2 linked regions of the Homo sapiens genome follow. The protein of the gene in region 1 purifies or fractionates together with the protein of each later gene. This does not show direct contact. Each region holds a gene or a part of one and is shown on either strand. Other genes may lie near its edges.

Evidence for each region.
Region 2: the proteins of MAP3K8 (region 1) and TRIM4 purify together in Homo sapiens (affinity purification with western blotting, with the first as the bait; one study listed by BioGRID). This does not show direct contact.

What each region holds. Positions count from the first base shown.
Region 1 is NC_000010.11:30,432,671-30,437,129, forward strand, and holds the start of MAP3K8 (mitogen-activated protein kinase kinase kinase 8), read left to right. Parts: upstream 1-1,513; 5' UTR 1,514-1,708; intron 1,709-1,966; exon of another isoform or gene 1,967-2,078; intron 2,079-3,902; exon of another isoform or gene 3,903-4,459.
Region 2 is NC_000007.14:99,905,835-99,909,645, reverse strand, and holds part of TRIM4 (E3 ubiquitin-protein ligase TRIM4), read left to right. Parts: coding exon 1-81; intron 82-833; coding exon 834-1,064; intron 1,065-3,811. UniProt on the Homo sapiens protein: E3 ubiquitin-protein ligase. Mediates 'Lys-63'-linked polyubiquitination of the innate immune receptor RIGI, this linkage doesn't lead to proteasomal degradation but seems to enhance IFN induction.

The sequences.
Region 1 (4,459 bases):
AGCTTCCGAGGAGCTAGGATGACACGCGTGAGCCACCATGCCTGGCTAATTTTTAGATTTTTTGTAGAGACGGGGTAGCTATGTTGCCCAGGCTGGTCTCCAACTCCTGACCTCAAGTGATCCTCCCGCCTCGGCCTCCAAAGCGCTGGGATTACAGGCGTGCGCAACCGCGCGGAGGCAATCTAGAAACTGCAGAGGGAGCACGGACCTGGGCACTGGGAAGAATAGGGCGTGGACTTGGAGTGTGACCGCGTTTGAATCTGGGTTGTGCCTGGGACACCCCACCTCCTGGGCCGTAGGTGGGGGGGGAGAGAGAGAGAGAGAGAGAGAGAGAGAGAGGATGTCGACCTTACATGGCTCCTAGCTCTCCGCGCTCTAGCCGAATGCCTGGTTCCTAGTGGGTGCTTGATACGTGGGAAATGTAGGGGGAGGGGGTGGCGGGGCATTGGGAATGTCCCGCAGAGTGGATTTCGGGAGAGTGGCGCTTTTCTCTAGAACTCTCTTCCGGTTACACCTGGAGTAAAAGCTTGACACTCTAGAAGGAAAACCCCAGATGAGCAGCTAGGACTGAGGGTTAGCGGTAGGCGGGAGCGGGGAGATAGTACAAGTACGCTTCCTAATGAGGCGGTGCCGCAAAATAACCAATTTTAATAAAGACTGCAGAGAAGAAAACCAGGTTCTGCTGGCGGAGTGCACAGGCTCCCAGCCGAGCGCCCAACAACCAGGTTCCGGGCCCACCCTGCCGCAGCCTCTTGGAAATCTCTAAGTTGGAATGTGTGCGTGCGCACCACGGGTCACTGCCCTCTTTGTGTGTGAATTTGAAGCGAAATCTGGGCGAGGCGGGGCCGTGCTACTAGCAATCGGACCCACAGTCGCGGTTCCAAGAAGCCCCGAAGCTTCCCCGGCTTCCCGCAGCACTGCTGGGAGGGCACACGGCGCCTCTGTCCCCACCCCAGAGCGTGGGGCGCGCGGAAAAAGGTCTGGTGACTGCCCTCCCCGCCGCCCCCCGGGAGCGTGCCCTCCCGCCGGACCCTGGGACTCCAGAGAAGCGCCGAGGGCGCGAGTACACTAAGATATACGACCTTCCCTGGGGACCGGGAAGGGCACAACCACCTCTTGCAACTCCGCCACTAAGACGCCTTGGGTCACCAGGCCCGGGGGAAAACTCGTCCCCGTCCCAGGCTCTCGATTCGGGCCGCAGCTCACGTCCCGCGCTCCTCCCTGCGCGCCGCTCTGCTCCTCCCTAGTCCCGCCTCCAGCTCCGCCCGGGCGCCCAGAGGGCAAATGAGGGGCGGCGGGGTGGCGGGTGGGGGGGAGACGCGGAATTTCCCAGCGCGGGGGCTCTGGCTTACCCTGCAACCGGGCAGTCTCTTTCTGTTTACGGAGAGAAAGGGGAAATGGAAAAGTCGGGGAGGCGGTGGCTGGCGTCCGCTGCGCCGCCCCTGGGCAGGCTCAGACGCCGTGAGTCAGGGGCAGAGCAGGGCGGTCTGAGCGTGCGGGCGACGCGGGTCTCACTCGTCCGCTCCGCTCTGGACTGCGCGCCACGCTCTGGGGTCCGGCGCCCTGGTTCCTGCTTCTGCCGCTGCCGCCGCCGGATCCCAGTGGCCCGGCGTGCTCGGCTCCCACAGGCCTGCAGCCAGCATCGCACCGAACCTTCGGGGGGCCGCGGCTGGAGCGCTCGGCCGGCGTGGGAGCGCCAAGGCCGCAGGTAATCCAGGGTTGGGGGTCTCCGGCGTGTCTTTCGGGTCGCGTCCCGCCTGGGTGCCCCGGGGATTCCCATGCAGAAATGGAGGGTGCCCCCAGCAGAGGGGAAAACTCTGGCGTGGGAAGAGGTGGGGGCGTGCCCACAGCTGCGCTCGCGGGTCGCCGGCTGCACCAGGCACAGCTGGAAAGCACCTTGCGCAAGGGTCTCACGGGGTGCAGACTCGCGACTCCTCCCCCTTCCTCCTCCTTCCCGTATCCGCAGCGCCAGGGCAGTGCTGGTCTGGGCAGTGCGCGGGGAAGCGGGGACCCGCTGTCACTGCGCCTCCCGCTGCCGACGCCGCCTGGACGGCCGCACTCTCCCTGCCCGAGACCCGGTGAGTGCAGCTCGGAGGCTGGAGGACCCGATCCTCCCAAATGCTGGGTGCTTTGATAATTTATAAGCCTTTTAGGCTCCCTTGACTTAGAGAACCAGGAGGAAAGGAGTGGGAGTGTGGGTTGGCGGAGCCCAGAGACTTGTGAATGGCTGGAACTAAATTCAAGTTTGTAACCCGGACTCTATCCCATGACTAAAGAGGTCATAGCAGAACACGAAGGCTGGGCTTTTGGTCTAAGAAAGAATACTAGGAGAAAAAAAAAGTTATTTTCACGGAAGTTGTTTTCGAGCGATAGTGCATGATCAGGACTCTGAAATTTTTCTAGCTCTGGGCGGAGAAGGACGCCTAGGGATTGTCTCCATAGTTAACAGGGGAAGGCCACCGGCTGCCTGTAAGAGAGAAACGTTGCGATGCTTGTCTATTTCACTTTTGGGAAGACAAGATTAAAGGCTGCTCTTGATAAAAAACAGGGACAGAAAGGCTCTTGCAGTTGCTTTACATACCTGTGGCCTGAGTCGTTTGTGCCAAGGAGAGTGTAATCCACTTCCAGCTGACGCCCCCAGCTCTCTGCGACGGATTGAGGTTTGTGTGCAGGACGTCTGGCATACGGCCCATGAGGACTTTGTCGTGTAAAGCAAATGGGAACGTTGAGGCATGTAGAGGTTTTGAAGCAGAGTGTCGGTCCTTCCTTCCATACGCCTGAAACGCATAATCCGGGGCTTTTTGAGAGCAAAAACATAGTCAGAAATGTGCCCTGAGGGAGAATGTACTATTTTGGCACACATATGTATATATGTATATATAATTTTTAAATTTTTTTTGAGAGGGGGTTTCACTCTTGTCGCCCAGGCTGGAGCGCAATGGCGCGATCTCGGCTCACTGCAACCTCCACCTCCCGGGTTCAAGCGATTCTCTTGCCTCAGCCTCCCGAGTAGCTGGGATTACAGGCGCCCGCCGCCACGCCCGGCTAATTTTTGTAGAGACAGGGTTTCACCATGTTGGCCAGGCTGGTCTTGAACTCCTGACCTCAGGTGATGCACCCTCCTTGGCCTCCCAAAGTGCTGAGATTACAGGCATGAGCCACTGTGCCCGGCCTAAAAAAATATTTTAAATGAGAAATAACACAAGTAATAGTCATTCTTTGTTAGGCAGAAGCATATGCTGTTATGCTGGCCATTTTCATTCACACTTGCCAGGAAACACTCACATTTTGTTTCTGTATATGGAGGCAGCCAAGAGTATTATGTTAATGTTTAGGAAGAGAATTTCCTCGTGATTTTATTGCTGATTTCTGAAATAATTCAGTGTAACTAATTTTGACTGTATTTGCACATCTCTCCAATTCCAAAAGCTGGCATAATTTTCTGTTTGGTTAGGAAGTAGGAATTTTATGAGGACTTTTATTGTAAACTGTGTCAAGGGAAAAATCATCTTATACTAAACGTCTTTATTGCCAAACTAGAATACCTTCACAATCTGAACTTTCTCTAGATGGGCACAGATCATGAATAACTCAGAAACCATTAGCATATTGTGTGCTTAATTAAGGCTGGAAAGTGCTGAGGCTTTTTGCAGGCGCAGTTAGCAGGCGAACTGGTCAGCAGGGTTTCTGGGGAACGTAGATTTGCGTGACAGGGGCCCTGTGTTGCTAAGGAATTACTGCAGGCACTGAGAAAAGTCTCAGCGTCAGACACTCCTCCACCTCCCGGGTCCTGCTTCCCTCCCTCTCCCCTTTCCAGGCAACTCACAGTTTAGGGGTGTGGTTGTGTGTGTTCAAGCTCTTGGGTTTTACATATAAATGCCTGAGACTTTTCTGCAGGGTTTAAAAACTAACATCTTGTCTTACAGCTCTTTTAGGATTTGTCTTTTAGAATCTCCAGTCCTCACAGGAAAACCCCCCAATTAAAAAAATAAAAGAATAAAGAATAAAAAGAATACCACTACTACTATAAAAAAAAAAAAAATCCTCTAAAATTTGTCTTCCCAGATCAGCAGAGTGAATTTGAACTGTGTGGACTTTTTTCCTCTTTCTTTCTTGAGTCATGTTAGTACTGAGAACTTTTTTTTTTTCTGTCAAATCATCTGTTTGATAAATAAGTCCAGGAGACTTGGATCCTTTCAACCCCTGAGGCCCTAAATTAGGCTGTTTTTTTTTTAACCTCTGTGTTTCCAGTAAATTCGACAAGCAGAAACTGCAACTAAACGGCTCAGTAAAACCGAAGTCAAATGTTCCTCCATTAATCTAAGAAGTTGCTCTCCTAACTCAGCAGACTCCAAGAACCTGAATCACAATCTCCCTCGAAGATGTACAAGATCTCAGGAGGGGAAGCTGCCCCCTCACTCTAGATTTCACGGTGGTGATAACAGCCATGAAAGCATTT
Region 2 (3,811 bases), on another chromosome or scaffold:
TCTCAGCGTAATCTCGTGGCCAAGATGAAGAAAGTCATGCATTTACAGGATGTAGAAGTGAAGAACGCCACACAGTGGAAGGTAATGGCAGAAGTGGTTGGATATTTCTTGCTCCTGAGGTCCTTTTGGTCTGGGACATTTCTTGCTTCTGAGGTCCTTTTGGTCATGGGGTTTTGCAGTTCACGTAGAGTCTTGGATGCCTCAGAACCTCTGTTTCCTCCATATCATGTGACTGAAAGAAGAGCTTTCTGGGTGTCAGTTCAGTTGTCAGGCCCCTTGTAGATACGGGGATAGGAGAGGAAGTACCTGTCCCTGCTGCTAGTGGCTTTGGGTGATAATGAGTTCCGCATACTTCATCCCCATGTCTCTACTTTAAGGTAGCACCCCTCTCCTTCCTACTTTTTCCTAAATATACTCCCTAGGTTAGAGTCGGTTTGGGCCCATGGCATTGTGGAAAGAAACAGATGAATGGATGCACACACACACGCACACACACACACACACACACACACCCTCACACTCCTAAAGATTTGGTAAAACTAAACGAGTTCTGAAGGCTAAACTAAGTAGTAGATGTGAAAGTTTGTTTTAGTTTAAAACTTGTCAGTAGTAGAGACTGAAATGTTAGGAAGAATGAATGAATACTATAATGACTAGACAGAGCTATCAAGTAGGTATAAATAAAGGAGTAATGGAAATTTTAGTGGGGGTGGGCAGGAGCTTTTCAAGAGGGTTTGATTAGGATTGACTGTGGATTACTGGGGAATTGTGTAAGGAATTTAGTAGCTGGGGTCAGGCAGAAAAAGGAGTGAGCAAATCTCATGTGGCCTTAGGATAAGATAAAGAGTCAGCGAATGAGAATCAGCACGGAGTTTTCAAAGCTGCACAACTTCCTGGTTGAAGAAGAGGACCTGTTTCTTCAGAGATTGAACAAAGAAGAAGAAGAGACGAAGAAGAAGCTGAATGAGAACACGTTAAAACTCAATCAAACTATCGCTTCATTGAAGAAGCTCATCTTAGAGGTGGGGGAGAAGAGCCAGGCTCCCACCCTGGAGCTGCTTCAGGTGAGACAGTTACGAGTGGGGGTGATCTCATCTTCACTAACTGAACTCTCTCTTGTCTTTAGAGCTGAATGTCCTTCCTGGTGAGTGGGTTTCATAGACATGTCTTATCTCTTGCTAGTTCTGTGCTGTCACATAACTAAAAAGCCAAAGATTCACCATTCAAAGGAAATTAATGTGAAATGTAGGTATGCTGAGCTCAGCTCATAGGAGATAAGTTGATTCACACAGTCTCATAGTTCATCTAGGATCTGAGACTTAGCACATATAAGATTTTTTTCATTCATCTTATGTGTACATTTATAATTATTAAACAATAAAACAAAGCAAGCATAAAACTCCCAAGTACATAACTGTTATCAACAATTAAGAGACACTTAACTTTCTCGCTTATTTTTAATCATTACAATCACAGCTTGATAAAACTTTGTTCTTATCCCCATATTTTGAGTGGTACTTTCATTTAAATAATTTCCAATGACTAGCAACCTTTAAAAGATTATAATTCTAACTTAGCACTTAAGTTTGGGTCTTTAGGCCAGTTTGTTATCAAAAGCCCCTCCTTTGAGTTAATCTTTACCTTTATATCCTCTGTAGGTAAAGTGTCCTTATAGCTTCTTTTAGTTTTTGGATAGGGTCCTACATTTGTGACTTTGCTTTTTCTTTTTGCTGAAATAATTCATGTTGAGTATCGGATGCCTCAGAACCTCTCTTTCCTCCATATCACGTGAATGAAGATGAAAAGATCTCTAAAAGGTGTTCTCAAGAACATTTTCTGTCTACCATTACTATTTTTTTTTCATAAGCAAGAGACAACATTCTGTTCTACTCTTAAGGAAGTCAGAAACCTGGACCCACCCAGTAGTTATTATCAATAAGAAATTGCTAGCTAGGTTTTATATGATAGATATAACCTAACAGTTAAAATTAAATGTAATGACTTCCAAGAATTATGTAAAAGTTTTACAACATGCTTAAGCAATGCAGTTGCAAGTACATATCCAAATATGTGTCATAAAAGAATCTCTGAAATAACACATTTAAAATACAGGCTTAACATCTAATTAGAATCTGAAACCTCGAAGATACATGTGAGCCAGCAGAATGTTTACAAAAAATTATATCAGCAAATGGAAATGCAAAGTTAGGGAAACGATTAAAAAAGATGAAACTGGGGCCGGGTGCAGTGGCTCACGCCTGTAATCCCAACACTTTGGGAGGTTGAGGTGGGTGGATCACCTGAGGTCAGGAGTTTGAGACCAGACTGGCCAACATGGTGAAACCCCGTCTCTACTAAAAATTAGCTGGGGATGGTGGCACATACCTGTAATCTCAGCTACTTGGGAGGCTGAGGCAGGAGAATCACTTGAACCCGGGAGACAGAGATTGCAGTGAGCCGAGATTGTGCCACTGCACTCCAGCCTGGGCGACAGAGCAAGACTCCATACCAAAAAACAAAACAAAACAAAACAAACAGATGAAACTAGAACATAGAATCTCAGAGCCTGAGAGAACTACTGTACTTATCTATCTACCTACCCATTTTTAAAATTGATTTCCTTTACTTTTACCCCATGACCCACTTCTAATGTACATCTTCCACATTTTACCTGTTTCTTTTTCCGGTAATGGCTACCTGCGTTGCCTCCAACACCATTACCACTACAAATAATGCTGCAGTGAAACCATTAATATCTGCTCTTTATTGTTTATCTTTATTTTTATTTTATTTAGGTTTTGAGACAGGGTCTTGCTTTGTTACCCAGACTGGAGTGCGGTGGTGTGCTCATAGCTCACTGCACCCTCAAGCTGCTGGGCTCAAGTAATTTTCCTGCCTTGATCTCCCAAAGTGTTCGGGGATTACAGGTGTGAGCCACCGCCCCCAGCTGTTTTTTTTTAAATTGGTCCTTGGGTTTCTTCTCTAGCTCTTTTCTCAACTTCTTGAGTTGGAATGCTTGGCTCCTTTATATTTACCCCTTTGTTTGCTGGTAAATTTAAGTTATACTTTTACCTTTATTGCTCTGTATTCCACAGATTTTGACAAATTGTTATATTTATTGTCATAATAAAATAAACATTAAAACACATTTTAAGGCCAGGTACAGTGGCTCACGTCTGTAATTCCAGCACTTTGGGAAACTGAGATGGGAGGATCTCTTGAGCTCAGGAGTTTGCACTAGCCTGGGCATCTTAGCAAGATCTTGTCTCTATTTAAAAAAAAAAAGTATGACACTCGTGGAGAAAAATGTATAAATCATAAGCTTGACAGATTATCACAAAGTGACCATTCATGTAACTACTATCCAAGTCAAAAAAATAGAACACACATAGCATCCTAGAAGCTTCCTCATGTCCCCAATCAGTACCTCTTCCCTTCTCCTCAAAGGGTAGCCTCCCTCTGGACTTCTCACACTCTAATTTTTTTTTACTTTTTTTTTTTGAGATGGAGTCTTGCTGTGTGGCCGAGGCTGGAGTGCAGTGGAGCGATCTTGGCTCACTGCAACCTCTGCCTCCCGGGTACAAGCTATTCTCTGGGCTCAGCCTCCCAAGTAGCTGGGATTACAGGCGTGTGCCACCACACCTGGCTAATTTTTCTATTTTTGGTAGAGACGGGGTTTTGCCATGTTGGCCAGGCTGGTCTTGAACTCCTGACCTCGAGTGATCCGCCTGCCTTGGCTTCGCAAAGTGCTGGGATTACAGGCGTGAGCCACCACACCCAGCACTCGTTGTGCTTATTTTTGAGTGAGTAT